2 separate regions of the Homo sapiens genome follow, and region 2 is linked to region 1. A link means that fine-mapping ties the variant in region 1 to the expression of a gene that starts in the linked region. Tissue or cell type: whole blood. Region 1 holds a variant in brackets; the other region holds the start of a gene. All regions are shown on one strand. Distances are from middle to middle.

What was found.
Region 2: MAGI3 starts here. The variant in region 1 is fine-mapped to the expression of MAGI3 in whole blood (INTERVAL, PIP above 0.99).

Annotation. Positions count from the first base shown.
Region 1 is chr1:113,318,640-113,335,455 of GRCh38, forward strand. No RefSeq gene overlaps it. Among named protein-coding and RNA genes, the nearest start is that of MAGI3, 63 kb to the right of the region's middle. The variant G/T (reference allele first, on the strand shown) is at 11,897.
Region 2 is chr1:113,386,555-113,403,370 of GRCh38, forward strand. It overlaps MAGI3 (membrane associated guanylate kinase, WW and PDZ domain containing 3), which reads left to right and starts at 3,961. Exons shown (of 21, transcript NM_001142782.2): 1 at 3,961-4,795. The coding sequence starts at 4,480. RefSeq lists silencers at 2,293-2,537, 3,527-3,576, 3,607-3,966, 4,377-4,506, 4,567-4,726 and enhancers at 4,407-4,906, 4,957-5,006.

The DNA.
Region 1 (16,816 bases):
TTTGACCCAGCCATCCCATTACTGGGTATATACCCAAAGGATTATAAATCATACTACTATAAAGAGACATGCACACATATATTTATTGCGGCAGTATTCACAATAGCAAAGACTTGGAACCAACCCAAATGTCCCAAATGTCCATCAATAATAGACTGGATAAAGAAATTGTGGCACATATACACCATGGAATACTATGCAACCATAAAAAAGGATGAGTTCATGTCCTTTGCAGGGACATGGATGAAGCTGAAAACCATCATTGTCAACAAAATATCACAAGGACAGCAAGCCAAACACCGCATGTTCTCACTCATAAGTGGGAGTTGAACAATGAGAACACATGGACACAGGGAGGGGAACATCACACACCAGGGCCTATTGGGGGCTGGGGGGCTGGGGGAGGGATAGCGTTAGGAGAAATACCTAATGTAAATGATGAGTTGATGGGTGCAGCAAACCAACATGGCACATGTATACCTATGTAACAAACCTGCACGTTGTGCACATGTACCCTAGAACTTAAAGTATAATAAAAAAAATGGTACTTATACAAAATGGAGTACTATTCAGTGATAAAAAAAGGATGACTTCCTGTCATTTGCAACAACATGGATGGAACTGGAAGTCTTATGTTAAGTGAAATAAGCCAGGCACAGAAATACAAGCTTTGCAAGTTCTCACCAATTTGTGGGAGCAAAAAATAAAAACCACTGGACTCATGGAGATAGAGGGTAGAATGGTGGTTACCAGAAGCTGGGAAGGGTAGTCGGGTGAGGGAAGGGGGAAGGATAGTGGTTACAAAAATGTAGTTAGATAGAATGAATAAGATCTAGTATTTGATAGCACAATAGAATAACTACACTCAACAATAATTTATTGTATATTTTTGAATAACTAAAAGAGTATAAATGGATTGTTACAAAAAAGGGATAAATGCTTGAGATGATGGATATTCCATTTACCCTGATGTGATTATTATGCATTGTATGCCTGTAACAAAATATCTCATGTACCCCATAAATATATATACCTACTATATAAGCAGAAAAGTTAAAAATAAAAAATTTTTTTAAAAATTGAATCTTGGTATTCATAATTATTGACTCAATATTTTCTTACTAAGACCATTACTGAATAATGACCATGCTTTTTGCCAGACATAGAATTGTTCCAAGGAAGTCTAGGGTCTAATATAAAGCAAGGTATTCTATAATAGTATAATAATAATCCTGTCTGTGCTATCCATTTGTAATTAGTCCATTCAGAATCATGATCTTAAAATAATTTCATCTAGTAGGATATATATATATATTACATATGTATTTATATATTTATAAAATTGAAATACATATATATGTATCTATAAAATGGAAATACATACATATTTATCCTGTCATTTTCAACAATATGGATGGAACTGGAGATCATTATGTTAAGTGAAATAAACCAGGCACAGAAAGACAAACTTTGCATGTTCTCACTTATTTGTGGGAGCTAGAAATTAAAACTATTGAACTCCTGGAGATGGAGAGTAGAATGATGGTTACCAGAGGCTGGAAAGAATAATGTAGGCAGGGAGTGGGAAAGGTTAATGGTACAAACATATAGTTAGATAAAATGGAAATACATACATATTTCCATTTTGTAGATAGAAAAAAACAGAAGCTCAGAGATGTCCAGCAGCCTGTCCCAGGTTGCTTGGTGAAGTGTTTTTTACAACTCCTTTGCCAGTGCTCTGCCTCTGTTATGTAAAAAAATACAAGGTGGTATTTGTAGTATCACTTGCTATGCAGCCTGTAATGGTTAACTAGATTAATTAGTCATAAGTGATTCAGAAGCACTGGGTAAACATGGGTGTGTATACATAAATGATCAGTCACATATCAAATAGCTTTTAGCCTACATATGTTTGAAGAAGGGTGCTCTAGGAAGAATTTTTAAAAGCTAAGCTTCAGAAGTAAAGGTTCTTATGCAACACTGATATTAATATTCTATAAAACTATTTAAAATTGATTAGGTTGCTATATCACTAAAAATCCAGAGGGAACTAATAATTTTGGAGTATTGCCCAAATGATGACCCCAGGCAACCCCTGAAACCAGCAGTGAATACTGCGTTAGGATTTCAATCTATTTATTAATATTATGCTTCTACACAAAGAACACAAAATAGAGAGAAGAGAGGAGAGCAATGGCCTGTCTAGTTGATATGATCAGTATTGATAATTAGAGGAGATAAAGAACAAGTAACAGATTTTGAGATTTTTGTCTGAATTGTCTGAATAATTGTCTAAGCTGCTTGTGTGTGTTTGTGTGTGTGTATGTCTGTGTGTCTGTGTGTAGATTCAGAGATGAAAATGAATTTCAATTTTTAAAAATCCATTCCTCATAATTGGTCCTAATGCCTAATGATAGCATTTTTCAAAATAGAAGTTCATCTGATATTGTTGTTAGTAGAGGCAAAGGGAAAGGGAGTCTCTGCTTTCTGGAAAGCTAGCAGCATGGCATTAGCTCACCATAAGTATCAGTGGTGCCTATAGTGACCCTCTTGCCCCCCTTTTCTCTGTTCTCACACCTATTGTTACGTAAGAAACTCCCCTTTTCTCTCTTTCTTAGAATTCTTATGAAGAATTTCTGCTCTTGCTCAGCACTGTTGTTCTTCCAATGCCCTCGTGTGAGAGAATAAGAATTACTTGCAAATCAAATTCCAGGGATTTGCATGGTAGACTTGAAGCTCTTGCTGCCTTTTGTTGGATAACTAAGATTGGTTTGTATCTTGTACAAACATTCCTGTCATTCATTAAAAGAAATGTAATAGTCTATTTAGGTATGCAATTCCTTCACTTCTCCAAACATATGACCTGTTTGCCTCTTCAGAAGAAGCCAGAGAGCTGGATCAACCTCTTTTGGCTGCTAAGTTACTGTACTTGTTTCTATTACCCTTGGTCCACGTGTATTGCCAGGAAAAAGATCTTCCCTTGAGCTTCAAACATTTGATTCTTAACCCCATATATCATTCTTAAAATTATCAAGATGACTTTGTTAAGCAACTGCTAAGCTAACTCATAGGTATTGCCAATGGCATACACTCTTTATCTATAGGAAAATATTAGATAGTAATGTACTCAGAAACTTGGAACAATTTTTTTTCTTTACAAAGTGATAATGACCTCTATACTTGACCTCCCAATTAAGAGTGTAGTTTAAAGAAACTGCCAAATGTTCACAATTAGGCAATAGAAAGACCTACTTAAGAAGTAGAAAGCAAGCTTCCCATCTGTGAAGTCTTTACTACCCACATGGAACAAAGATAACATAAAAATGTCAAGTGAACAATTACATATGGAATTCTAGGAACTCTGGAAGGGAGGAAGAACCAGAGGAGTCTTCCAGATCAAGGATCAACAAACTCTTCTTGTAAAGAGACAGAAAACAGATATTTTAGGCTTTGCAGGCCATATGTTCTTTGTTGCAACTATTCAGCTCTGCTTTGTAGTGCAAACGTAGCCATAGACAATAATGAGTATAATTGTATTTCAATAAAACTTTATTTATAAAAACAGATGGTGGGCCAGCTTTGGATCATAGATTGCTGATTCCTGTCCTAGACCAAACCCCTCCCAATATAGAAATCTCATCTCTAGCACCCAGACCATTCTATATTTGGACAGTTGTAATAACTGGAGGTTTTCCTTATACAAAGTTACACCGTGTCTCTCTGAAACTCTCACCCACTGTTACCACCGTTGCCTCTGAACTAGACCATGACAGTAGCCTCCTAACTTATCTCTCTGGTTCTACCTTGTCCTTCCTACAATCAATTCTCCATAGAAGCCCCTTAACTAGTCCTTATAAAATGTAAGCCAAATCATGTCATTCTCTGGCTCAAGGTCCTCTGATAGTTTTCTATAACATTTACAATAAATCAAAATGCTTTACCTCAGCCTATAATTATAGGCCTGAAATACCTGGTTTCATGACTGTTTCTCTGATCTCATTTCCTACTACTCACTGCTCTCTGGCCACACTGGCTTCTCAGTGTTTTCCAACATACTATGTGCATTCCCATCTCAGGGCGTTTGTGCTGGTTTTTATTTGTCTGGAATTTCTTCTCCCAAATGCTTGCAGGGCTTGCTCCTTCTTTTCATTCAAGTCTCTGCTCAAATGCTACCATCTCAGAGAGGCCTTCTCCAGCTGCATTATCTATCCTGCTCCATGCTCGACTGTATATTTTACCCTGCTCTATTTTATTTCATATCATCTAACGCTAACATTATATTATACATATGAATGTGTGATTCTTTTTATAATTTACTCCCCCAACTCATGCCAGTTTTATATCAGTAGGAATTTATGTGCCTTGTTCACTGTTGTATTTCTACTGCCTAGAGCAGGAACTAGTATATATCAGTTACTTACTACATATTTGCTGGATACATGATAAATGTGGCTTTGCCCAGTGCAGTTTCCAAAAATACATATGATCACTCTTCCATATGACAACACTTCTACACGTGAAGGCAAGCTCTATATTCTTCCTAAATTTCCTAGTATCCAGGGATATGTAGCTTCCACTCCTGTAATATTTGCATTACTCCCTTAGGCCCAATAACTGGTCATGATCCTTAAGTTTTGACCTTAGGCTTCTACCTACATTTGCTCATCAGGTTACATCTGCCCCTGGTCACTCTGGGTACCTACTTTACCAGATCTAGTTTGACTTTTGGGACCTCTACTCCCTAAGGTTTGCCCAGGCACTTGTGAAAGGGAATCAAACACCAGTGTGTAGACATTTGTCATTCCTTTTAGCTGCTCAGTGACTGAACTTCCCCTTGGGTTTGAGGAATCTCCTCCCCACCTTATGAGACAAAGACCTCTATTCAGCAAAGAATCTGAAATTTCCATATATTCACTTTCCTAACCACCCTTACAGTAAGAGTGCTGTCACATGATCTAGCCTTCACCAATCAGATACTCTAGTCCTAAATTTCGTGGCAAGAACCAGTGAGGTTAAGAAGCAGCAACTGACCAAAATCCATTCTGGTGGTGCTGTGACAAAGGTAGCCATGACGTTCTGTTTCAGAGGCAGCAAAAGCAGAGGTTCTAGTGCATCCAGAGCTTATCTTCTTCTGACTTACTTGTGTACTATGATTTATTATGTATTATGCTTATTGTTAATTGTGTTAGAATGTTAGCTCCATAGGGGCAGGAATCTTTGCTTTGTTCAGTTGTGTGTCCCAAGCATCTAGAGCAGGGCCTGGCACAAAGTAGGAGCTCAATAAACATTTATGAATGAGTGTGCGCTGAGATGACCTTTTTTTTTTTTTTTATTGAGAGGGAGCCTTGCTCTGTCACCCAGGCTAAAGTGCAGTGGTGTCATCTTGGCTCACTGCAGCCTCCGCCTCCCGGATTCCAGTGATTCACCTGCCTCAGCCTTCCAGGTAGCTGGGATTACATGCACGTGCCACCACACCCTGCTAATTTTTGTATTTTTAGTAGAGATGGGGTTTCACCATGTTGGCCAGGATGGTCTTGAACTCCTGACCTCAGGTGATCTGCCTGCATCGGCCTCCCAAAGTGCTGGGATTACAGGCATGAGGCACCGTGCCTGGCTGGAGATGACATTTTTTCATCTATCAGATTGATAAAAAAGGCTTATCTGTGAGAGTGTGAAGGAATAAACATTTACACATTGTTGGTGAGATCATAAATTGCTGTAAACATTTTAAAATGTAAGATTGAAAATAATTTCATATCCAGGAATTATGCTGCACAAGTACACTGAGATCTTAATTCAAAGATGTTCATTGCAGGATTCTTTGCAATAGCAAAATATTGAAAATAAACAAAATATCAATCCATAGGGAACTGGATAAATAAATTTTTATATATTCATAGAGTAGAACTATATGCATTGACATGGAAAGGTTTCCAGACCTAGAACCCTCGGATATAAATAGTACCTAGTACTATTTTAGAAACTTTAATAAACAATTTTTTCAGAAAGGTATTCACAAGTAAGTTTTTTGCAGTGGTTGCTTTGGGGAAGCGGGTAGGTTTGGGGTTGTGGAAGGGGGGAGATTTTTGCTTTCTCATTTTATGCCTTTCTATACTATTTTACTTTCTCCCGTATGTGTGTATTATTCATATTTGTAAAAACAAAGAAAATGAAATGAGTTGACTTTTATCCCCCTACTCTGTCGTCCAGACTGGAGTGCAGGGGTGTGATCACAGCTCACTACAGCCTCAACCTCCCAGTCGAGGGGATATTTCCACCTCAGCCTCCCAGTGCTGCTAATTTTGTCTTCTAAATATTTATTGACCTCACCCCTCCTCTCTATCCTCACTTTTTGCCCTGTTTAAGGCCAGCTGGGACTACAGGCCTATGCCACCATGCCCAGCTAATTTTTAAAATTATCTGTAGGGACAAAATTATTTGTAGAGACAAAATTATTTGTAGAGACAAAGTGTCGTTGCCCAGGCTGGTCTCAAACTCCTGGGCTGCAGCAATCCTCCTGTCCGGCTCTCCCAAAGTGCCGGGATTACAGGTGTGAGTCACACATGCTTGGCCATGAGTTGGCATTTTTACTAATCAAGTTAGCAAAGTGTTTTGGTTTTGTTTAGTTGTTTTTAATGATGATTTTCTGCAGGAAGAGATATTGTGAAATGGATAACCTTACAATACCAGTGGCATTATAAATTGTTGCAATCCTTTTTGAAAGAGGTTTGATAACATGTAACAAAAGGTTTTAAACATTTGTATATTTTGATACTGTAAACATTTTTAAGAAATCTATCTTAAGGAAATCTGTCCCATACATGGAAAGCACTTTATATATAAAGATATCAATGAAATTATTATTTTAAATATCCCAACATTAGAAACAAATATCCCATAAAATATGAATTAAAGCACATCCATAGACAGTCAATATTATCTATTTAAAATAATATTTACAAAGATTTTGTTACAAAATAAATACGTTTGAGGTGTAATGTTAAGAGAAAAAAATATCACACACTGTTAGACTTAGTGGACAGAATGATCACAACCATGTTAAAGGATCTTCTTAGAAAAATACTGACAGGAATGTTAATTAGTGGGTAGCAGAACTTTTTCTTATCCTAGCTTTCGATAATTTCCAAGTTTTCTAAAATAAGCATTTATTATTTTATATTGGAAAAATAACTATTCTGTAAAGAGGAAATGAGACATGCTTGGTATGATTTGTTCATAGTCAATGTGTTCTGAGGCTAAATTAATCCACCATTTTAATTTCTAAATGAAATGTTCATTTACTGTTTCCAAAAATTGGCTACAGCATTTTGCCAAGGACCAATCATCAAACTTGCCAATTTTTATTATCCAAAGACACTCATTACTCATCACCAAGTGCTGCTAATTTTGTCTTCTAAATATTTATTGACCTCACCCCTCCTCTCTATCCTCACTTTTTGCACTGGTTAAGGCCTTTATCCTGACCGCACCTCCAGCTTCATTCTGGTTTCCCTCCATTTCACCCTCCACTCTGCCATGAGAGCAGTCTTTTTACAACACTGTTATACCACATTATTCATTTACCAAAACCTTCCCATAGCTCTTATGGCCCCAGGGCCACAGGGTTCTTGGTGAACCTACCAGACTCTCCTGACCCAAGCCCTGTCTGCATCTCCCCATCTCTCTTCAGCTGAGAATACAGAGGTGCTCATGGTTCTCTGAGCTCACCCTGCCACTTTACAACTCCTTGGCTTTGTTCATACCATTGCTTCAATCTAGAACCTTCTTCATTTGCTAACTCTCTGCCTTCCCCATGCCTCAGGCCCAACATCTGCTCCTCCAGGAAGACTTCTCTGACCCACCAGGCTGGGTCACAAAAGTGAACAAACCAATACTGCTTGTTAGGTTTTCAGAGCATTTGCATATAGAATAACACATCTAGCCCTCGTAATAACCCCGTGAAAATGGCAAGAAACACATTATCCACATTTTACAGATAAGAAAGGTAAGATTCAGACAACATACTTGGTTGAAATCATGTGGCTCATAGGGCAGAGCCAGGACTGGTACCCCGGTAAACCTTGACCTTAAATACAACGTTTGGTTTTTGTTTTGTTTTATTTCCTTTCGTGCTTGCTTTCTGAGCTGCTAAGATTAGAGAGGCAAACCTAGAGAGGCTGAGGAGCTGTTCAGGAGAAGGGGAATCTAGCTGATAGAGAATCTTGACATTTTTCAGTATGTCAATTGCCTTTTTCAACTCCAGAATTTCTTCCTGATTCTTTTTAATTATTTCAATTTCTTTGTTAAATTTATCTGATAGAATTCTTAATTCTTTTTCTGTGTTACCTTGAATTTCTTTGAGTTTTGTTCAAACAGCTATTTGAAATTCTCTGTCTGAAAGGTCACATATCTCTGTCTCTCTGGGGTTGTTCCCTGGTGCCTTATTTAGTTTGTTTGGTGAGGCCATGCTCTTTTGAATGGTCTTGATGCTTATGGATATTTGTTGGTGCCTGGGCTTTGAGGAGTTATTCATAATCTGGGCTTGTTTGTACCTGTCCTTCTTGGAAAGGCTTTCCAGGTATTTGAAGGGACTTGGGTTTGGTGACCTAAGTTTTTGATCACTGCAGCCATATCTGCTTTAGGAAGTACTCCAAGCCCAGTAACACTGGTTCTTGCAGACTCGTAGAGGTACGCCCATGGGGTCTTGGATAAGATCTGGGAGAATTCTCTGGATTACCAGGCAAAGACTCTTGTTCTCTTTTCTTACTTTCTCTCAAACAAATGGAGTCTCTCTCTGTGTGTTGAGCTGCCTGGAGCTGAGGGAGGGGTGACACCAGCATCCCTGTGACCAGTACCTCTGAGACTGCACTGGGTCAGACCTGAAGCCAGCACAGCACTGGGTCCTGCCCAGGCCTGCTGTAACTACTCCCTGGCTACTGTCTATGTTCAATCAAGGCCTTGGGGCTCTACAATCAGCAGGTGGTGAAGCCAGCCATGCTTGTGTCCCTCCCTTAAGGGCAGCAATCCCTCTGGCCCCCAGGCAGGTCCAAAGATGCCGTCCTGGAGCGAGGGCCTGGAGGCAGAAACCCTAGAAGTCTACCTGATGCTCTAGTCTAATGTGGCTGAGCTGTCACCAAAACCACCAGAAAAAGTCCTTCTCACTCTTCTCTCCCCTTTTCCCAGGCAGAGGAGTCTCTCCCCATGTCTGCCACCACCATAAGTTCATGGAGAGTACTGCCAGGGTACCACTAATGTTCACTTAAGGCCCAAGGGCTCTTCAGTGAGCTTTTGGTAAATGCTGCCAGGCCTGGGACTCACTCTTCAGGTAAGTGGGCTCCCCTCTGGCCCAGGGTAGGTCCAGAGATGCTGTCGAGGAGCCAAGGCCTGGAATCAGGGACCCCAAGAGCCTGCTTGCTGCACTTTTCCACTTTGGCCAAGCTGGTACCTAAGCCCACATCAAAGTCTCCTTTACTCTTCCCTCTTCTTTTCTTGGGAAGAAGGGGTCTCTCCTCATAGCCACCACTGCTATGAATGTTCTGGGTCACACCTGAAGCCAGCACATCTCTGAGTCTCATCCAAGGCACATGGTGTCCACTACCTGGCTACTGCTGCTGATTATTCAGGCCCAAGAGCTTTTTAGTCAGCAGTTGAGGAATTCTGCCAGGAATGGGTTCTCCCCTTCAAGGCAGCAGGTTCCCTTCTGGCTCAGCATGTATCTAGAAATGTTGTTCAGGAGCTAGGGCCTGGAATTGTGGCCTTATGACTCTGTCCAGTGCCCTGTCCTACATTGGCTGAGTTGGTATCCACATTGCAAAACTAAGTCCTCTTTACTCTTTTCTCTACTCTCCTCAAGCAGAAGGAAGGGGTCTCTTTTGAAGCTGTGAGCTGCACTGCCTGGGGTTGTGGGAGAGGTGGTGTAAGCGATTTCTTAGCCCTGCCCAGCCGGTGTCTCATTAGGTCATGCACCCACAGAGTCCACTGGATCTAAGCCCTGCACAGTCCTAGGTCTTGCCTAGAAGTTGTAGTCCTTGTGGCCTAGGGTGCCTTTCAAGTTTATTTAGAACCCCACAGCACTTTAGCCTGTGGGTGAGGCTTGTTGAAACCTAAGTTCCAACTGCCAGGATGGGCAATTCTTCTCTGGCAAGGGTTGGTCTAAATGCTCCCTCTTGTGAGTGCCAGCTGAGTTCTGCCTGGGTTGGCAGCAGTGTATTCCAGTGCAAATTCCCACAATTACTGCATTCTCCCTCTCCCAAGAACATATAATTCTCTCACCATGCCATTTGGCCATCCATTGCCAGGGGGATGGGGAAGGGGTGGTGTTGGCAATTCAAGACTATCTTTCCTCCTCTTCAGTGCCTCTTTCAGAGATATGAAGTTAAAACCAGGTACTGTGATTGCTCACCTGATTATTGGTTCTTATGAAGGAGCCTTTTGTGTAGTTGTTAAATTTTGTGTTCCTGTGGGGAGGATGATTGGTGGAAGCTTCTGTTCAGCTATCTTGCTCCACCTCCTCTCTCCCACCTGCCTTTGAATCTCTGTCAAGATGCAAATGATGGCGGCTGACTCCATTGCGAACTCAGAATAAATAGCCTTCGCTTTTCTCGTTTGGTTGACCTTTGTTTATTTCGGCACTTGAGAAATAAATGAAGAGCTTTTTATTATTCTGGAAATTATGGGAAGACTCTTGGTATTAAAGTATCAACATAGGATACTTTACCTTTGATATCAGTAGCAATTGTGAATTATATAAACAGAGTCCAAATGACTATTAGACCAGAGCAGGGCAGGTGCAGGAAGGATGAAAAACAGAAATGCGTAATTTGTATAAAAAGTAGCCATATTGGAAGAGGTATCAAATATGTAATTTATCTTTCCAATCATATTCCTCTTTTTTCCTTGAGAACAAGTTGCATATGTATCACTGTTAGTCATGAAAAGGGACATTACCATTGAAGCTATTCCTCTGTTCTCAACTTCCTCTACCTCTTTTGGTTCCTGGTATTGCCTTCTTTCTTCAGTCAGCTTGATATAACCCTTTTGCTTTAAACAAAAACATCTTCTTCTTCTTATATTTCACCAAGTCATGAGACCAGCTATGTAATTTGTGGGCCTAGCACAGAATGAAAATGTGAGGCCCCTGGCTCAAAAAATATGAACAACTTTTAGATGGTGACAGTAGAACATTATTAATTCAAGCATGAGGGCCTCCTGAGTTGCTTCTAAGACCCACACAGGTTACACACCTAGAAAGCCAGCCTTGTTAGGCTGAAAGGTAAACAAATACATCTTAGGAAACCTTTCCTCTTCTTTCTCTGCTTCATTTTCTCTTTGCTTTGCTAAGGCAATAATCTCTGGGAAATGCCACCCTTTTTATAACAATAAAACAAAAAGAAGATGAGCAGAATTTCCCCCTACCTTTCTATTCCCAGTTAACCCCCGTTTATATTTTGGAGGTTCTATGCTCCCAGGGAGGAAAGATTCTGCCTCCATACTCTCTTTGGTCTTCATCAACAGTACTTTATCAACTCTGAGACCTAAGATCCTACAAACTAAGCATGTGGGACCATCAAATGGGCTTTTCTAGGCTGGGAGTCCACATAAAAGCAAGACTAACGCATTCTTTTTAAGAAAGAACAGAAATCTTTCAGTGATAGATAAAAATTAGATACGGAAAGTTCATAAACTGGGTTAAGTGAATCATTAGATCGTGCTGTTATTTGCTAAAAATAATAAAAACACACACTGAATAGCAAATGGCCATGAATATTTAACCATCACAGATTCCTTTTTTATGTGCAGTGCATTGTAGCTGTTCTAATGTACAACAAAGAAAGAACAGTGGGAAAGTGCTGTAGACCTAATGGGGATTTTTGTTGTCTTTCTACCGTAAAGAAAT[G/T]AATCTCTCGTCTTGTGGTTTCAAAATACCAATCTTTGGCAACTAAGACCAGATGATGCTTGTAAATATGATAATCAGACAACAAATCCATTATTCATCCTCCCCTGGAAAATGTATTGGCATAAAGTTTAGGCAGTATAATTTCAGACAAAACCTGAAAATTTTTCAGAACAGGATTTAACTAGGACTATATTTTATAAAACTGAAAGCTTACTTTAAATTACATAACATATAAAACCCAAGCACCTTGAACTCCAATGGGACTTTTCCACCATCACCAACATGAGTTTTCTGGTCTTTCAAAAAAGTTAGGGCATTTAGTACAGTTGTCCCTTGGTATTTGGGGGATTGGTTCCAGGACCCCCATAGTTATCAAAATATGTGGATGCTCAAGTCCCTGATATAAAATGGCATGATATTCGCATATAACATACATACATCTTCACATACACTTCAAATAATCTCTAGATTACTGAGGCCAGGCAGGGTGGCTTACACCTGTAATCCCGGCACTTGGCTTTGGAAGGCCAAGGTGGGAGGATTGCTTGAGCCCAGGAGTTCAAGACCAGCCTGGGCAACATGGTGAGACCCTGAATCTATAAAAAATACAAAAATTAGCCAAGCATGCTGATGCATGCCTATAGTCCCAGCTACTCGGTAGGCTGAAGTCGGAAGATCACCTGAGTCAGGAAGGTTGAGGCTGCAGTGAGCCATAATCGTATCATTACACTCCAGCCTAGGCAACAGAGTGAGACCTTGTCTCAAAATAAATAAATAAATAAATAGATTACTTATAATACTTAATACCATAGGCATGCTATGTAAATGGTTGTCATATAGTATCTTTTTAAAATTTTTTAATTTATTGTTATTTTGAAATTTTTTAAGTATTTTGATCTGTATTTGGTTGAATACACAGATGCAGAACCCAGACATGTAGAGGGTCAACTCTATACCTCTATTTTTTCTTTGTTTAGGATCTTGGGCCTCTAGAGATTAAGGCACTAATAGGACTAGTCACCAGGTTGGTTATGTCTTCCTTCAGTCCCATTCTCACATAGCATTTGTGCTGGTAGACATTTCCTGGGGACCATTCAAGCCAGTGTGCTCATCACTCCCATCACCTAAAATCCTTTTAATTCCCTTCCCTTCCCTTCAACTCTCATGCTTTAGAAATATTTATCTACCAAAACCCATTTACTAAATGTAGGCTTAATATGGGAAACTGTTATTTCCATTAGGCTTCATGAATTAATTAAAATAATTAAAGGATTTCCCCCTTAATAATAATAACTAAGGTTTACTATGCCAGGCATTGTTCAATCATATTGTATCTATCATCTCCGTGTAAACCCCGTAATAAGCCTATGAGCCTTATATTCCCTGATAAGGAAACTAAGCCTTAGAGAGGTTGGGGAATGTGCTCAAGATCACAGAGCTCTTACCCCATTTGCCCATGCCCACAAAACTCATCGGTGTCAAGTCAGGACTAGAACACACATCTTCTGAATACTAGTTCTGTGGTCTTTTCTAGCTAAAGAAATATTTACTGAGCTGCAACTATGTGCAAGACAATGTCCTGGATTCCAAGGGAATACCGAGTTGTAAAGGCCCTTTTTAAAATTATTTCCAGGCCAGGTGCAGTGACTCACGCCTGTAATCCCAGCACTTTGGGAGGCCAAGACTGGCAGATCACTTGAGGTCAGGAGCTCGAGACCAGCCTGGCAATATGGTGAAACCCCATCTCTACTGAAAACACAAAATATTAGCTGGGTGTGGCAGCGTAAGCCTGTAATCCCAGCTAGTAGGGAAGCTGAGGCAGGAGAATTGCTTGAGCCCAGGAGGCAGAGGCTGCAGTGAGCCAAGATTGCACCACTGCACTCCAGCCTGGGCGACAGAGTGGAAAAAAACATATGTCCAAAATGCTCACCACTCTTAGGTCCTTCTAATCCATACTGCACGCTGACACACCATGAAGATAATTTCCTTAAAGTCTTTTTGGATCAAAGTATTTTCAGCTATTCTCTATTTCATAAAGAACCAGTTCAAGTCCCTCTGCAAGGCACTTAAAGGAGCTGGTACGGTAGAAAGAGGAAGGATGTGCTGACAGACATGGGTTTGCATCCTGGTGCTGTCAACAACTAGCCTTACAACTTTAGACAAATCACATAATCTGTCTGAGACTCAGTTTTCTCACCTGTAGACCTGGGAAATAGCAGGGTTGTTGGAAGTATTCCGTAGGTAAGTAAAGGGCCTGGCGTACAGCGGGTAGCAATAAGAGTCAGTTGCCTTCCCTGTCTCTCCCACCAATTCTAGCTCCAATATAATTTTCTAAGACATAGACCCTCTAGGTCAGCCAGGCTGTCTGCTTACCACCCGCTGGACATGGTTACACAATCCTTCCTTTTCTTAAACATTCCCCCTTGGTCTAGAGGGCCCTCCTCCCTATTGTTCCCTAATCTAGCTAAATCTTTCTCACCATCCAAGACCCAGCTCAAGCCTACCTGCTTCTTTATAGCCCTCCCAACAGAACACATTCTCTCATGTTTTCTCAAAGCACTATTGTCTGGTTATAGATTCAGTACCCTACACTGTCATTAAATTTTTCATGCTTGTCTTGTTTCTCCAAAGGTGCTGTGAGCTGCTTGGGAGCAAGGGCAGGGCCTTCTTTTCTTCGTATCCCCCACAGAGATGATTGCAGTGTGACACCCATGACAAGTGTTCAATAATCACATGCTAAGTGTGTGAATGAGTACTGCATCATATTGCATTTTGTTAAATTATATGTGTATGCCTGGGAGTTGAAATGTGAGAAAATGACACGGCTCTTTCTCTTCCTAATGCAGATTGCTTTTTAAAATATTATCTATCCAACCTGTTTTTTTACATATAGTATTTTTTTTTCTCCAACATTTCAATACACCACTTAAAATTCGACCTAAAAAAGAAAGTATTAAAGCATGTGTTTCAAATGGGGGGAAAAATCCAGCAGCTATGACTAATGTCTTCAATTTATAGTATATCCAATTTGGAGAAGACCATGCTTTTTCATAAAGTTGCATAACTGCTAACAAAAACATTTTCAGCCACAGGATGTGTTTTTGGAAGAATGTAGCCCTTCGCTAGACGAGGAAAAATGTAAAAACCAAGGGCACAGCTTTCCTTGATACACGTCTTACCCAATACAGATAAGGCACTCAAATACTTATCAAATTGAATGTTCTCTCCTTATATAATGTATGATATTGGGCAGAAGTAGGTTGTCACATTCTTCATATTAATGGTTCATTCTAATTCTACATAGCTTTTCCTTGTGAACTATCTAGGTATTGACAACTATTGAGTACCATCATCAAAAAGGATTAAAGGAAGTGAGTGAGGGATGATGTCATGTATTTCTACATCTACCTCTTCTGGATTAAATAATCAAAACAAAGAGGCCTGTATATTACCCACTTTCTAATATTTGTTGTTACAGCCCTTTGGACATGAAATAATAGTGAATAGACTTTCAAATGAATCACAAGAACTAGAGCTCCAGTTAACTTGTTGACTGCAGTCATGTAAGAAAGTAAGACCCCAAGGAGGGTAACAGGTTAGACTGGTGAATACCTGAACTTAACACTGTGCTTTGGCAGTCTTTTTCACCCTTATATATGAGAATATAAAATCTGGGTCAGAACCAAGATGTATAAGTCTGACTTGAGAATAAACTGAACACAATCTCTTTAAAATACACAGAAGTAAAAGTTTTTAAAACTCACAAACTGTAACTTATCAATAGTCCAATAGAAAAGTTTAAACTCTTAGTTGCATAACGATTCATATTTTTATTTTTAAGTGTGCAAAAAAAAGTTGAAAGCAGCAACATCTGACCCTGTTGTCTATATCAAGCTAATAAGAACAGGTTTTAAATTCTAAGCTATTATTTTGTTTTTCACCTTGAGTATTCATTTTGCTGCCGAAGTAGAAGATGTGAAAATTAAGATCTATAGAACACAGTTTTGAATCAATCATCAAAAGCAAAAAAAAAAAAAAATTGTTTTCAAGGATGGGAACGAATTCTGACATTTTAATTACAAGCTCAGTAGAAAGTTTTCTAGTAGTCTGTGGGCTTTGAAAATCATTATTATGTTGTCATTACAAATTAATGACTATAAAAGAAATCAGTTTTGAATGCTAACGGTAAATTACAGAAAAAAACTTATGGAACTGCTTCCTATCTCCTGATGTACCAAGAGTATTCATCATAATTTACTTGATTAAGAAACCCAAACAGTGGAAAAATACAGAGACATAGATTTTTGAAATGGTATTATATAAATATAAGCCAGCTTTTTCTTAGCAATTCAAAAGATGCTCATCATAACACATTTGTAATATCAAAAAACTAGAAGCAACCTAAATATTCAGCAACATGAGAATGAGTAAGTAATTACAGTACATCCAATTGGTAGATTATGCAATTATTGAAAGTTATAAATATAACTTATATGTCAGATTGAAAAATGTAAGTACAGGCATACCTCGGAGATACTGTGTTTCAATTCAAGATTGCTACAATGAAGCAGGTACCACAAGAAAGCGAGTCACACAAATTTTTTGGTTTCCCAGTGCATATAAAAGCTATGTTTATGTTATACTGTTGTCTGTTAAGTGTACAATAGCATTATGTATAAAAAAAGTACGTATCTTAATTTTAAAATACTTCATTGGTAAAAAATGCTAACGATCGATTCAGCCTTCAGCAAATCATAGTCATTCGGCTGGTGGAGAGTCTTGCCTCAATGTTAATGGCTGCTGACTGACAACAGTGGTGGTTGTTGAAGGCTGAAGTGGCTGTGGCAATTAAAAAAGACAGCAATGAAGTTTGCCACATTGATTGACTTTTCCTTTCACAAAATAATTTCAGTAACATGT
Region 2 (16,816 bases), 68 kb after region 1:
TTAGTAAAGGAAATTTGGGAAACTGTGGCCAAGAAGCTAGAGGAGAAGTCTTGCTGGAGGCCTTTCGGGGAAAGGCTTCCTTGATCTACAAAAAGGAAATGAGGAAAGGAAATATCCTTTTCCCTCCTTTCAGTCTTTAGCCATTATTGTGTGTGGATGTGATACTTGGAGCCTCTGCAGCCATCTTGGGACTGAACTTGTAAAGTTTCCATAGTGAAACATATTGATATGTTTTGGATATTTGTCCCCTCCAAATCTCATGTTGAAATGTGATCCCCAGTGTCAGAGGTGGGGCCTGGTGGGAGGTGTTTTGATCATGGGGACAGGACGGATCCCTCATGAATGGCTTAGTGCCGTCTTCTTGGCGATGAGTGAGTTCACACCTGACCTGGTTGTTTAAAAGTGTGTGGCACCTCCACCCTCTCTTGTTCCCACTTTCACCATGTGATGTGCCTGCCACTGCTGCACCTTTCACCATGACTGAATCCTACCTGAGGCCTCACCAGGAAGCCAAGCAGATACCAGCGCCATGCTTGTACAGCCTGCAGAACTGTGAGTCAACTAAACCTCTTTTCTTTATAAATTACCCAGCCTCAGGTATTTCTTTATAATGACACAAAAATGGCCTAACACACATAGCTATCTCTAGCTCTATAGATTAGATAGATTAGATAGGGATAGCCCAAAGAAACCTTGGAGATCACCAAATTCAATTGCCTCATTTATTTTTATTATTTTTGTTCCATGTTGTTTGGTTTATTAATATTCCCCAATGGAAATCACAACTATTAAACCAACCATTATTTTTGGAAAGTCGTGATAAACATGAATACAATACGATTATTTAATTAGGTGTCATTTTAGAGATAGAAGCTTAAAATATGACCCCTTTATGTAATAATTGCCAAAATAATATCCTACCAGAATTAATTCAATAGCATGGGTAGCTTATTTCTAGAATATTTTAAAAACTGAACCAAAGCTTACTAAGATGGGTGAATTTAATACAATGTTTTTAGCTTTGTCAAAGATAGTACAATTTAGCACAAACTAAAATAAAAATTTACTGTTTGCTCTATGCTGCATCCTATGTTATCAAATAGCTTGACTCAAATTACTTGACTCAAATAGCTTCATACAGTTCTCACAACAACTCAGGTAAACACTGTCATCAAACCCATTTTGTGGATGAGGAAATTGAGGATAGGCAAGGTTAAATAGCTTGCTCAAGATCACAGAGCTAGCAGTAGAAAAGCTGGGATTTGCAGTAAGTAGAAAAGCTGGGATTTGCAGTCTGATTTGCTCAAGCTCTGAACCACTGCAGTTTTCTGCCCAAGAATGAATACAACTTATTCATGGTTGAGGCATGTGGCAAACACTGTTGGATGCCTACTTAGCAACTATTTCCCCTTTTCTGCTCTCAGTCAGAACACTCATTTTGTTTAGGGGTGACTTGTGATCAATTTAATGAACTGTGGCCAATCCTATCTCTTTTTGCCAGTGACTGGTCTGATGTGGCATATGACCATTTTCTGGACAATAAGGAAGATTCTAAAGTCTGGGAAATATTTTTCTCCTTCATAAAAATGGGGGACAGCACTTCCTTTTCTTCCGTTCCTGCTCTGTGCAGTGACCTCTGTGGATGTGATGTCTGGAGCTATGGCAGCCACATTGCAATTAAGAGGTGACAAACCTGGAGACAAAAGCTCACATGCATGTGATGGCAGAGAGCAAACACAAAAAAGAGCTTGGGTCCTTGATGACATGATTGTACTGCTCAACTAACCCTGAAACTATCTGCACTTGAAATTTATATTGAAGATATAGTAAATGACCTCATGCTTTAAGCTACTGCCAAATATTCTGTTCCTTGAGGCCAAAGGCATTCTAACAGATGCAATCTAGACACAGAAAGATGTTTTCCCAGAGTTCCTGCAAAAACAGATGATGTGTAGGTTATGGAGATTTTATCCAGGAATCCATTAGTATAGGTAGTAGTTTAGAAAAAAAATACTCCAAGCTTTGTCTCAGATATGGTTAAATCTGAGCCATCCACATGGTGTCTGTGCTGAATATTTTCCCCTCAGATGCACTGTTTCCTTTTCTGAAACTGACTGATATGAACTATATCAAAAGCCTCCCTTGCCCTCTGGCGTCTGGTTGGACTTGGCCATTGACAAGCACCAGCAGGAGACTGGAGGAGGGTGGTGAGTTAGATATAAATCCCCCAGGTCCTTTGCTGGGTGTTTACTTAGGCTGACTGCATCCGTTGACTGAAGGTCACAGACTCCTGTCAGGTGGCCCTGTGTGTCTGGATTTTTCGGTAACTGTTCTTTCCCGATTGGACAGATCTAGGAGCTGTAGCCTCAGGGTTCCAGCTTCTCTTGTGGTTTCCCACACCCTGCCCACATCTTTGCAAAATGCCATTTGTTTCCTGCCAGGACCCTGACTGATACAATGGTGTCAACGAAATCACTGCAGCTATTGAAGCTTGGTCCAGTCTATCTGAGGTGTGGAGTTTTATAAGGGCTTTCACCTACTATTAAAGGGAGACAGGAGACTACACAAATAAATGTCATGCTGCAAAAGTGAAACAAAGATCATAGCTCAGAGAAAACACTTTCCACTTGAGGGCAAGAAATCAGAGAAAGCTACCTGGAAGAGCCGGCATTTGGGATGAGGACGGATAGGAGTTTTAAAAGAGATGAGATGAAGGGCATTCCAAAGACAGGGAAGAGTGTAAGTCAAGCCGGGGAAGAGAGAAAGCTCAAGTGAAATTTCTGAAAAATTAGAGCTGGAAGGGATCTACGATATCTTTTATTTAATGTTCGTTCTCCCTTCACCTCCTTTAACTGAGATTTGGCCAAGGTCAAACAGCAAGTAAGTAGCATGTCAGGACTCCAACCAGATCTGCTGGCTACCAGGTTAGTTCTTAATAATCCACCTTCTACCTCCACCCCACTCCCTCACCTCAGGCAGTCTGCTTACTTCTCAGTCTCTCCCACTAGACTGTAACCTCCTCAATAGCGGGGCTTCTGTTTTCTTCACCCTTGAATCCCAGTACCTAGCACAATATCTAACACAAAATCGTCATCGTCATCAGCAGCAGCAGCAGCAGCTACCAAACTTTAAGAGGCAACCACCCACTGTCAGGCACTATGCAGTTATTTTGTACATCTTCTGTAATCTTCACTTTTCACTGAGGACGCTGCGGCTCAGAGAGGTTGTCTAATTTGTCTTAGGTCATACAGCAGTGCCGGACTCTATTTTATAATATCTTTCATCAACCGGACTCCGAAGCCCTGCCTCAATGGGCGTTCAGTAACATCTGTTGAATGAACGAATGAACAAGCAATATCCACTCAATGCAAACTATCGGCTGTAACAGGCCACCCTAAAGGCCCCGGAACCTCGGCCGGCTCAGGACTCCGCACGTTGTCTTCCAATCTAAGCACACCGGCCCCTCTCTGCGCCCCGCACAGGCTCAGAGGCTCCGCCCGCGTCTCCGCCTAACTCGCCGGCCACGCCCCCACTTCGGGGAGCTCGGTCCCTCTCGGATTCGAGTTTTCCTCGGCTCCAGCCGCCGCGCAGAGGGCCTCTCCCGGCCCTGCGACCTACAGCCCCTTCCACTCCCCTGCCCCTCCTCTGCGCCCTCCCTCACTCTCCAAACTTCTTTTTTCCACCCTCTCTAAACTTCAGTCATTCTAGTGCCCGCCTCCTCCACTCGCACCGACCAACCAGTGGTCCCCATTCTCGTTGGCGGTCCGCCTCCTGCCCGCCGGGGGCCAATCCCTGGCGCGAGAGTCCAGGGCCGGGGCTCGTTCCCAAGCGCCCAGCCTGTGACGGCAGCGCGCCGGGCGCCGCGCGGCGGGAGGGGGCGGGGCTCTGGATGAGGGATGGGCGAGGGCCGGGGGAAGGGAAAAGGGAGGAGGAGGAGGTTGCGGCTGGTTTGAAAGCGGCAGTTTCCTGGCAGCTTGGGCAGGCGTTGGTCTCCGCGCTACAGCTCCGCAGCGGCCACGATCGATCCCGCGACGGGTCTACGCGCGCTTCTGCGCGCCCCCCACGGATTTTTCCCGTTCCCGGCTCTTCCCCCTTCACCTCCCCGCCCCCCCGCCTCAGCCTTTCCCGCCGCTCGGGCGCTGAGCCCAGGGACCAGCCGGCGGCAGTGACCCCGCCCGAAGCCCCTTCTGGAACCTCCTGGGGACAATTCCCTTTTCCTTTCTTCAGCCTAACCCGCGGTGGCCCTCGCGGAGTCCGGTCAGCCCCGGGGAGCGCAGCCGGGAGGGGCGTCCAAGGGGCGTCTCGCGTCTGGGAACGGCCGGGCCCCCAGCGGGCTGTGGTCGCGGGGTGGGGGCCGGAGCGGCGAGGCCCCCCTTACCGGGCTGCGCGGGCCGCCCAGGGCCCCCGGGCTGAGACGGGGCCGGAGCGGCGCCCCGGCCGCCCGCGCGGGGTCTCCCCCATGGTGCAGCGGGGTTCGGGATGTCGAAGACGCTGAAGAAGAAGAAGCACTGGCTCAGCAAGGTGCAGGAGTGCGCCGTGTCCTGGGCCGGGCCCCCGGGCGACTTCGGCGCGGAGATCCGCGGTGGCGCGGAGCGTGGCGAGTTCCCCTACCTGGGGCGGCTCCGCGAGGAGCCCGGCGGGGGCACCTGCTGCGTCGTCTCGGGCAAGGCGCCCAGCCCAGGCGATGTGCTGCTGGAGGTAAACGGGACGCCTGTCAGCGGGCTCACCAACCGGGACACCCTGGCTGTCATCCGCCACTTCCGCGAGCCCATCCGTCTCAAGACTGTGAAACCAGGTACGCCGGCCCTGCGTATCTGTCTCGGGGTGTTGGGGAGAGGGGCTTCAGGGTGGGCGTCCTGGGAGCGGCGGCACCTCCCCACCGCGTATTGTCCCGGGTAATCTTAGACCTCTAGGGTGTGCCAGACTCCTTGACGAGGGGGAGGGGTGGCGTTGGTGAGTCCCATTTTGCCGAAGGGAAAACTGAGCTCTGGCTTGGCGCGGTTGCTCTGCTAGCTGTGCTAGCTGTCACAGAATTGCGACTAGAAGCTGGGTTTCCTACATTTGTAGCTCCATCTCCCCCCGCAGACAAGAGTTTTTGACTAGAGAAGGCCAGCCTTTTCCTGTGTTGTGCAAAAAGGCCCTTAGGATTGTAACATTTTCTTTGGAACGATCTTACGCATCTTCTAACAGGGAAAAAGGGACTTTACTATAGAGGCACTTGGTGCCAAGGTTACCACCTGGTGTACCTGGAAGGGCTTAGCTGCTTCAGTGTTTCTTGCACTCTAGCAGACATCTCAGAGCTGACAGCCTAACTCTGTCAGTCCAGGTGGTTCAGGTGTCTGAGTACCGATGACGGTACAATATGTGATATGTGGCAGACTGGTGTGTTCTTGCAGGGAGCTGTTGAATAGAGTCTGGGTTTTGCAGGAAGACCTAGGTGCCTAGCGGAGTGAAAGCTTCTGTAACGCTTTTGATTTTACAGAATTTTGTTGAAGTGGTAGGTTAAAGGAGCCTCTGTTGCCCTGGTATCTTTTATGCTAGTAAAAATTGCTGCAAAGCACGTTATGTTTATGGCATACTCGTCAGTTTCAAAGCATTGATCAGAGACAGCATACAGTGAGATCTGATAGTATGTAGTAGTTCTTATGAATTTGTTATAGACAGCATTGTTGGTTTTGTTTCAGCATAGATAGAATGTGGTTCTGTCGTCTTAGATGTTTGTGGGAGAGAGAATTGTGATTGTAACATTATTAGAAACCAAACTGTTTTTCCTTAATGTGCTCTGCTGAGTATACGGTGCATCAAAATATAATGGGCTGGTTAATTGTTACCTGGGCTAGGTAGCAGTCCATCCCTTGATGGCAAAATGCTAGAAAATTCTGGATAAAAATTTAATATGTTATCTCCTTCTCATTTCTTTCTCAGCAGCTCGCTTTGGAAATATTAATATATCTTTAATAGTCCTTGAGCTTAATGGGGCTTGATGGTTTGTGGTGCAGTTTACATATGTCTGTGTATTGTGGATATGTATACACACAGACTCACATGCTCCTAAGGTCATAATTAAGATTTTCTTTCTATAGCGTATTCCATCGTATTCATTTTAAGTGTATGGGTTTATGTGGTGAGGTTTTCTTTTTATTGTTGTTAATTTTTTAAAACTTTGGCAGACTTTAAACAGCTTTTTCTGTATAGTTTTGAGAATTTGTAAATTTTTTTCTTAACTCTAACTTTTACAGCCATGTGTGAAAGGCAGAGGAAAGACTTTTGGGGCTGTAATTCAGCTAGTCAGGCACTGTCTGTAATATGCAAAAGGCTATATAGACAGCATTTACTAGTCTAGCTGCCAAATCTTAGTTCAAATCCCATGAGTTAGTGAATAGTGAGAACATCTGCATCATTTCTTTGTGTTTTGTTTTGATTCGTTAGGGCATAGATGAGAATATAACTTATTTTTAGAAATTTTAAAGTTGATATATTGACATGGAAGCTGGTGTATTCTAAATTATTGTGATCTTTTTTAGAAGACTGAAGAGATGGCTATTTCATAACATTAGTCTAATCTACCTGTTATACATTTTTCTCAACCTCTATATTATATTTAACAATAATTCAAGATTTAGAGCATTAGTAATATTAACTGTGTTGAATAAACATCCTATGCCCCCGTATGTAGTTGACATTATTAGAGTAATACAGTTTTGCCCTCTTGACAGCCACAGACACTGTTCTATTTTAAAGATTTAGCCAAAATAAAGGGAATAACGTATTAATGGCCACAGAACATTTTGTAGTCATTAGTAATAAAGTTCTGAATACTACACTTGTTTTTTGAAGAGACACTTTGTGTCAGTAATTTCTCAAGATACCATTATGTCTGTGTTATTTGAGATTAATATTGTTTCTAAGCAGGTTGTAATTTAAAATTTTTAATCTCTTTTAAAAATAGTATTCTTAGCTTCTTAATAGCCTCATGTTAGGTATTATATTAAATGGCTTTCTTAAATGGCTTTGCTTAAAAGCAACATTTGTTATAAAATAGCAAGATTTTTGCAGGTTAAACAGACTTTAAATACTAGAAATTAAGAATTTGAAGAGGTTATCTGTAGAACTTTTGAGTTTGATTAAAAACAAATATTATTTTCAGAAGAGACAAAGATTCTTTATTGTGATTCATTTTGGAAAGGATGAAAATAGAGTAAGGGAATTTAAAAAGAAACTTGCCATAAACATTGTTTTATTTTTTGCTTTTATCTAAACTTTGTGACAGAAATTGATTTTTCAATTTAATAAGGTATTGTAAAGTGTACTTAGCACTCTCTTGTCTTGACTAGTTGCTTTTTATTAAACCATATTCATAACATGACATTTAGAGACTAGCACAGTGAAAGAGTAAAATTTAACCATTTTTGTAAGATGTAATACTAATCGGAAATGTTCTCATATTGTCTTCTGACAAAGTCCATGGCAGAAGGATGAGCTGGGTTGTAGAACATGGCTTTTGTAGCACTGATTCTTCCTAGCCTTCTTTTCACTTAGGTGCTAAGGGTCGCCCTCCCAAAGCCAGTACTATCAGCCAGGTGACTTAACATCTTTCTGGCAGCTACTGTCTTTAGCTTTGATTTTTTTTCCCTTTTTTTGTTGTTATAATCTTTAATAGAGAATTGAAAGTTACTCTTTAAAATATGGTTTCTAATCTGAAGCTTTTCCTGAATCAATTAGGTAGTTTCTTATTGTTTTAGTGTAGTACTTAGTAGTCAGTACTTTGCCCGCTTATAGAAGAATCTTTGGTTTCACCTATTGCTTGGCTCGATTAGTTACTTGTTTCTTAATTATGACCCTGTTGTTTATTTTTCTGCAAAGAGAAAAGTTGTCATTTGAGTTTGAACTTTGTCTTTTCCCAGTAGTAAAGTTGAACTTTGGACCTCTGGTGAAATTGTTTTGTGATATACTACTATGACTAGGTTTAGTTTCTTTGATTTTACTACAGAGTATATATTCTTAAACCATTTCTATTCTGATTAATATACAAGTAGTGAATTTTGTTCTGAAATTCCCCAGACTCTAATTGTGCAGAGTTTTATGCTTCTTCATACACCTTTAAGCTCATATTTCAGCAGTTTGCTTTCAGTAAGTTTCAGTAAATTATGTGTATTTTATTCCAGAGATTAAGTATCGGTACAATAAATACATGAAATCATTGTCTACTGCCATATGCACACATTACATTCAACTACCCTAAGCAAGTAGTGTATCCAGGGATGGAAATCATAGGAAACAATGTTATAGTTTGTTTAAATAAAAACCAAGTTGAAACAGTTCCTGGGTAATGTTAAAGGTAGGTAAAAGTCTTCACTGCTGACTCTTTGGGACATCCAATTTGTAAGGGAGTTTTGTTAAAATGGGCTAATTCCTAGAAATACACTTCCTGTTGGTGAAGAAACACTACTGGATGCTTTAAAATAGGAAATATTTATGTTATTCAAATAAAAATAATGCTGTGCCTTTCTTATCTCTTGAATCTTTTTGTTAGTTTTTTTTTTTTTTTTTTTTTTTTTTTTTAGTGGGATATTTAGGATTTTTGATGAGTTTTGTTTAGGTGGTTGTATTATATGAGGATGGGAAAGGTAAGAGAATTTAGAGTTAATTGTTAGCCTCCCAGGCTTACAATACATTTCTTCGTACCTTTTTTAAAACAAGAAAATCTAGAGACCTAGAGATTATTTTAGAAACAATAGAAAAAGAAGCAAGCCAAGCCCCTTTGCTAGGGAAAGTAGCATTACATTTTGATAAACCTTGAAGTTGAAAATTTCCTATTTCAAATTTTGGTAGTTTTTTTTTCTTTTTTCCCTAAAGCTCTTAATAACTCAGGGGTTCAGGTTTTGGATTCTGTTCATTGACACCTTCAATTCATATGAGTAATGGGCTTACACCTTAGCAATTGCAAGCTGATTTGCTTGCATGATATTTGATGACTTTTATTATATCATTAACATCTTTGTACTTAAAAAATATTTTCTCTCCATCATTCTCTAAGAGTACTATATCCAAATATCTCAGTATGTATATATGTATATACGTGTGTGTATATATATATTATATGCATATATGTATATGTATATACACACACACATACTTTTGTTAACTTTTCTTGTATATCATTTTCTAGTATATCATTTTGGGTACTTTATTGATCCTGCCCTCACCCCCAGACTTTTATAATTTAGTTTGTAAAACTTTATTTTCCTAGGTTGAGGCATTTTAATAATTCTTTAATTTCTTGCTATCTTACTGGTACAAACAAATACTTAACATTTGGCCATTTGATTTTTAGATGATTTTAAATTTTATTCAGTTTATTGCTAAAACTGATTTTCATGTAACATAACTCTGTGTTCCTGGGACGTATACATTATTTTTCCTCTGAGATCCTGGCACATACTTTATAAAACCTTTTGTTTTGAGAGACAAATTTTTGTGATTTTTTTTCTGCTAATTTATGTAAACTGGCGACAAAACAAATCTTCTAAATTCATTCAAGTGTCTGACTTATGAAGTCAGTGCCTAATCTTCTCAAGTGATAGTTTCATACAGAGTCTTTACTATGTAACCCCTAAGTGCTTTGTAATTTTTGGGGGGACTTAGTGTTTTGGGAGTATGTTGAAAGAGAATCTTGTTTTTATGGATTACTTCAGTATTATTTACCAATTTCAAAATCTGTGAATGTCAGGGTTGTGTGTGTGTGTGTGTGTGTGTGTGTGTGTGATTTGACAAAAGATAAGTGTTTTGGTATTGAAGACTAGAACCGTTTCGCCTTTAATAAATTATTTTTTGTCTTCTGAAATTTTGAGCAATAATTTTCTTGAAATACTACATTTTGGTAGATAGAGTGAATGCCCTGAATTTAAAACTATTGTCTAAAGTAAGAGTTTCAGAAACTTAGAAGCTGGTGTTATGAGACATGTTTGTAGGGAAAGAGGCAAATCCATTCATTGCTCTTCTAGCTAATTTTGCTAACAAAATATCTTGCTAATATTTTGTTTTTGAAGAACAACTATTATTCAGAATGTTTTCCAAGAAAAGATGCATATTTTATTTAATACAGAAAAAATAAGAAGTCCTATTACTGGCACGCATTCATTCCCTCAGCAAATACTTAGTGGTGCACCCACCAAGTGCCAGCATGGAGCTAGCACTGGCGATATAAACATGAGTCAGAAATTGTGTGTCTTCAAGAAGCTGGCAGTTTAGTGGGAGCTTAATGACTCATTGGTAAGGAATACCTGTAGTAAGGGTTTTGCCTTTTTCACTTTTCTGCCAGTGTTTAAAACTCTTTAGGTAGGTCTTAGTATGAATTTTGGTGAAAATGAGACTAACTGGCTGCATAGTGTGCTATTCGAAAAAGTAGTGGAGCTGCATTTTAGAAAGGATTTGGGTTCTCAAGTCATCACAAAAAGAGGGAAATCAAATATAAGCAAAACTGTCTTTTCAAAAAGCCCTTAAATTGTGCATAAAATACTATATTGTACTGTTTGTAGGATGAGTCCAAATGCCACTTTTCCACCCATGTTGGAACCAATTGCAGTTTTTTGGTCGAATACCAGAAGAAGTAATTTGCTTGCATTAAAAAGATATGTTTTACAAAAAAACTTTTAATTCTAAGAAATTATCCTCATCTAGGTATGTACAGTGAATTTATGGAAATTAAATGTGTACATGAAGTGAAAGAATGATTTCTTTTCTTTTTTTCTTTTTAATATCTTGGTAGGATCCACGCCATCTGCCCTTGTTTTCTGACTTGAGTGGTTGAGGAATGAATTGTGAATAATTTTGAACTTGTTTGGGTTTTGAAAGATGACAGATTTTGGTTGAGTGGAATTAGGATCTTTCCAGTAGTAGGTAAGAAGCAGAGGAGGAGAAAAACACAGGGCAAAAACGTTCCATACAGAAAGGTTTACAGTGTGGTCCATCTCAATAATTTTGTGTGTGTTTGTGTACAAGGGCACAAAATCCACATTATAGAATAATTGGAAATTATTTTGTACAAGGGCACAAAATCCACATTATAGAATAATTGGAAAATAGAGGGAAGATCATATTAATTGTTTAAATGTATAGGTAGTTCCATTATGAATAGTCTCCTGTAAGTTTTTTTTAAATGTGTTATCTCCTCGAAATAATGCTCTAAGGTGCTTAATGCTATTTCTGCCTTCAGCCTCATTCCACTCATAATGTTATACTATGAATATTTTTATTTAACCCTTAATGTACCATTAGTTCTGTTCTTTATGGTTAATAGCCCTATTTTTGTTGTTTTGGAAGTCTAGCCAGTTTTATGGGAAAACACAATTTGCTAGCCTAGGAAAAAGGGAATTGAAAAATATATTTTCATCTTAATCCCGCCTTCCCTTTTGTTACAGCCACAGCCGACTGGCTTCCAGTGAGAAGGGTGGCATCATTATATCTCCATTCTTCCCTGAACCCTAGCAATTTATCCTGATGCAGCCACTCAGCTGCATTGCAGTGGTTTCCAGGAGCAACCCACTTACCTGCAGCCCCCACCCATTTCAGTCATCCCAACATGGCCAGGGGAACATAGATTACATTTTGAGGACCATAATTTGACTTATGACATATCTAAATACCTGAGAAAGGACACGCTGTCCTTATAGGTGATTAGGTACTTGTTTTATTAACACATACTGAGAGATATTGTTTTAGAGACTCTGTATGGGTTATGAAGGGTTAAACTTTTTTGCCATAATTTGTTTGGAGTTTAGGGTTTGGTTTTAAAAAATATCATGCAGTGGTAATTGGAAAAAATTTTGTTTCAAATTTATTAATAATTAAGATCTTTTCTATTTGGAGGCTTCCCTTTTTATTGTCTTGGGTATACAATGTGAACGGTAACCGATCTACTTAATTAAAACTTTCTGGCATTTTAGCCTCTTTGCTTTTGCTGGTTTTTTTGCACATAATTTGAAACACGTAATTATTATTTTCTGGCTTCAGGGGAGTTTGTGAGAGGCAAGCCTGTATCTCGTTGTTCTGATTGGGAATTACACATGACTATGAAAAATGGGATTTTACTATACATAATGGCATTTAACAGAAGTAGTTTTATGAAAGGAAAATATCCTACAAGGTAGGAAAAAAACAAGTATTTATTAATGCTTCATTTTCTGAACTTAAATAGAATTAAGCTAAATTGGCTTTGCTTTTTCCTCCAATAAAATAACTTTTAAAAATTCACTTTAATGGAGTAGTTCCAGAGATATATTACTCTTTGGATATGGTTATCTAGTTTGCAGCAAGTATCTTGTGATATATAGCTTAGATCTCAGCAGGAAAGAAAAAAATCTTAATTTACATATCAGTTTCTGTATTTGTAAGAATTCTGTAGCAAGTGACAGAAACGCTGTTGAGATTAATGTAGGCTAAGAAGAAATTTATTGACTTACATACATTAAAATCCAGGCATAGATCAGTAACAGCTAACTTCTGTTCTCAAGTGTTGGTCATTAGAATTATTATTTGGTTCTCTTTTCTTCTGGGTTGGATTTTTTCTCAGCTAGACTGTCAGTGTAGCGGTGAAGGTAGCTCTGAACCCCGAAGTCATACAGGGTCCTTAAAGCTTCTCATCTTTTTGGAGTCTAATAACAAATCTCATGCAGGGACTTTGGCCCTGTGCCCATCTCTTGGACCAATTATTGTAGAGAGAGGAGAGGACAATGAAGTGCCATGATTGGTCAGGCGTGGGGACATGTCTACCCTTGCAGCTGGGTATAAATAGCATAATATGATTAATAACTGTAGCAGAACCCCAAGACGTAAGGGAGGGGGAGTTCCTGAAAGGGTGGGATGCCGAGGAATCAATACTACAGGAAATGATCTCTTTTAAAACATTTAATCTCTCTTACTTGGAGGCCAGAAGTAGTACACAGTTGTCATAAAACTATCATTTTTAGAAAAACAGATATTGGCTGTAAACCAAAACTGATTTGATTTCTAGGCACTGCTTTTACTCAAATATTTAAATAAAAAATTGCTTTTATTTAAAAGTTATTTCTTTAAAAAATTGAAATACTGATACCTTAATGTGCACAATTTAAAAGTATTTCTTGTAATTTTTATTTAATTTTCTTTAAAAAAATTAAATAAGATTCTCTAAAATCAATGCTGTTGATTTTTAGGGAGATGGAATACTTTGGAAGATTAACAGTCTTTGGCATTGAGAAAAATATTATTAGCCTAGTTAAACAATTACGTTTTTAAAACAATTTTATTCTACCATTTTGAAAATGAAATTCTAAACGAATTACTTTCCAAGGTGTTTTGCTTTTAAAACAATGGTCTTTTTAAACACAAATTGAGACAATGTCATTATTGTAGTATTTCTGAGGGCTCCCTAATAATACTTTTTAACCATGATTTCGTGGAAATTATGTGAAAGGAACTACTTCACTGACTCTTATATAAAATGGGTATATAAGAGTTTTGAAACATTACTTAAGTATGGTGTCATGTGGTAACTGTTTAATTACCAAAAATGTTATTTGGCAGATATTGCAGGATAAAATCTGATCCCCTTTTTAAAGTTTTTTATAGCCTCCACTGGGAGAACAGAGGTACTCAGAGCAGGGGTAGACAGTTGAAAGAGAGGGGTGGGTGCTCCAAATAACATTTCATACTATTTTTATATTCTATTACTGTATCAATGTCTTCAGCTTTGGTGCCATAAAAATAATAATTTTAGTAATAACTTTGAGTTTATATATGCCATGCACAGTAGGAGTTTTGTAGTTTTGCCAAGTGTCATCTGGTAGTTGGATCTTTAGTGAATATTAAATGTTGGTAGATTATTGGTGAATGCACTTACTGTACATAAAAATGAACATTCATGGAATTGGGTGTGATTTGCCAGTAAGAATCATCATAGCAAGTACTTTGTATTGTTAGATTAGTTTGGGCACCCTTCGGATGACTTTAGACCATATTTGGAAAATTACTGCTTCTACTTCAAAAGCCTGTAATAATTAGAGTTCTCCAATATTAATTCCATATATTGATTAATTAAGCCATGAAATCTAGTAAAATGATATAGTCTTTATTACCTCTGTTCACAGAATTGTATCTCAATCCAACTTGGTAGCTTTCAGCAGAACACTTTGTCAAAATATTATTAATTTTAGCTAAGAATTCTATTCACTAATTTCAGTGTTTAAGTTAGAATGCACATGCTAGTGAAAATTTTAATTTCCTTTGAATAGAATTAGATTTGCTAACTAGAGCAATCTCACAATGTAATGCTGATGACTGAAATGACACTTCAGCCTCCCTTGGGTGACAACCCTAAGTTTAGACAACCTTACTCTAATAGGAATATTGAGGACTTATCACAACATATTAGCTGTCATTTAGAGTAATAACTTCCATGTCAGGGCATTTTATACCTGTCTTATTTGGTTTATAAGGATGTATATATTAGCATTCATGTTTTCTTATAAAGAACTTTATATATTTTTATTCTCTATGAGTCAGATATTATCATCTTCCTTTACACATGAGAAAATTGAGTTAGAGAGATTAACACGTGAAAGTTCACACAGACTCACAGGAAGAATTATGAACTGACACAGCGTTGAGTCTTTCTTTACTTTCTGGATAGAATATTAGTTCATTATATCCAAAAAACCTGTCTTCCTTTTTCTAGTAAAAGGAAAAAGCACAATTCTGAATTGTTTGCGTGGGTGTTAAATGCAGTAAAACACTGGGCAAGTACTTACAATAAAGGCTTCACTGCTTGGTTCTGTTTCAAAACAGAGTTTGTGGCCGTGCAGTTTAATCTGTACAGCTAAGCTGCATGATAAAGTAGTTATTTCCAAGAATTGCTAATCAAGCAGAAAGTTAGTATTCTTGCTACATTTGTAAGAGAATATTTTCAGCAGAATATTTTTATTGCGGAAAATATTCTCTATAATATGTAAAAGCCCAGATAAATATATTAGATACATATTTTAGGATAAATATACTTGGGAAAATTGCATATTAGAAATAATATTTTGTTCTTGTGTTTCCTTTCTACTTCCTCTGTAATTCACTCACCAGGAAGGTGTTAGCACATTTACTGAGAGCCTAGAAAATGTTCTGGTGAATGTAGAAAGGAACGTACTTTAGAATTAGGGATCTTTTATAAGTATGCAGACCCTTCTCACAAAAGTACACTTTGCTTGAATAAAATTTAGCTAAGCTAGGTAAAAGAATAACTCATTGCATTTAAGTAGACCTTTCTCCTTCTAGACTTCGAGTATTGCACACCTAAGATGGATCCTTTGAAGAGGCAGGTAAAGCAGGTTGTGGATTGTTGGAACCTCTTATTCTTTAAGTGTTTACGCTGTTATGTTTTCTCTCTGGGCTAAAGTCAGTCACTTGAGTGGAAGGAAACACAGCAATCCAATCTTAGTATATGGATAAACAATTCGAGGCTTAGCAATGGCAGAAGTCATAGCATAAGCATGGTAGAGCAGAGACTAGAACTCAGATTGTTTAGTTCCTTTCATTGTTCTAGTTTCTGGCATAAGAATTTGTGTAGAAAATTGGCGAAAAAAGGACCTGTTAAACATATTCTGTTTCTTTATGAAATCTGCATTCTCTTGGAACTAAGTGTAATGTGCTAGACTCAGTTTGTTAGGCCATCAGTGTGCATGAATGTGGTTAGAGGCAGTGGTATCCCCGAACCTGCAGCACAGGAAAGAATTTTAATCATTATATGCCATGGATTTTCAGGGCATTTTAAGCCTTTATAATGGTGTAACTTATGATTAAGATTTACACAGTCAAAATTGTTAGCTGGTATAATAGCTGAATAGTTAAGTATTTATTTTGGTTAGTTACTTTAGCTTTAGCTTTGAAAAATCATTTTTCCTATCGGAGATTCTTCACAATGCTTTCAGTAAAATGTTTCTGAATAGTTCCTGCTATATGGTAGACTGCTAACACTGTTTCTTGCTCTCTCTGTGGGGCTGATGCTACAAGTCTGATTTAGAGTCAGCTGTGCTTTTATTTTTTTCCTTGAGTGACTAGGGGATGCATTGGGGGAAGATAAATTTTAGGGCAAGAGGACACTCAGGGTTGTGGGAGATGAACTGTCAAGGATACCTTTGGCTCACTGTCCTCAAGCTTGTTCGGCTGCAGTGATGGCATAACTGAGAAGAGGGATTGTGCTCTTGCTGGGTGCGGGACAAGAAGATGTCTCAGGCCACGTAAAGCTGGCCACAGCAGAGGACAAGGTATTCCCTGTGAGGCAAAACTGAAGAAAGGGGATTGAGGTGGCAGTTCTGGGGAAACTATGTTTGTTAGGTAGACTAATGGGAATGATGGAGTCTTGCTTGGGCTCTTTGTAGGTCAGTGGAAGAACAGCATGAATGTGGACATGAAAAAATCTTTCTGCAATCCATTTACCACATACTCCTTTGCAATATCAGTCAGGGTTCAGTGCAGGAAACAGAAGGGGATATAATGCAGGGAATTAATTGCTTAGGGAATCTTTTGAAAGGGCTGGAGGGCTGGGCTCTAGACTGAGCCTCTGAGAATGATTTCCAGGACACCTTGAAACAGTCCACAGTGGGAGCTGCCACCTCTGCTTGAGTCAGGAAAGTGGCAATCAGGAGGTTGCTACTGAAACAGTGGCAAGAAAATGCTACTGTAGCTGTGATCCAGGTGATCAGGGCAGCCACTGCTGTTAACATTGTAACTGCTGGAAGTCTGGAATGTAGGATCTGGCCATTGCTGTGACAGCTTCTCCTTGATGCTCGTG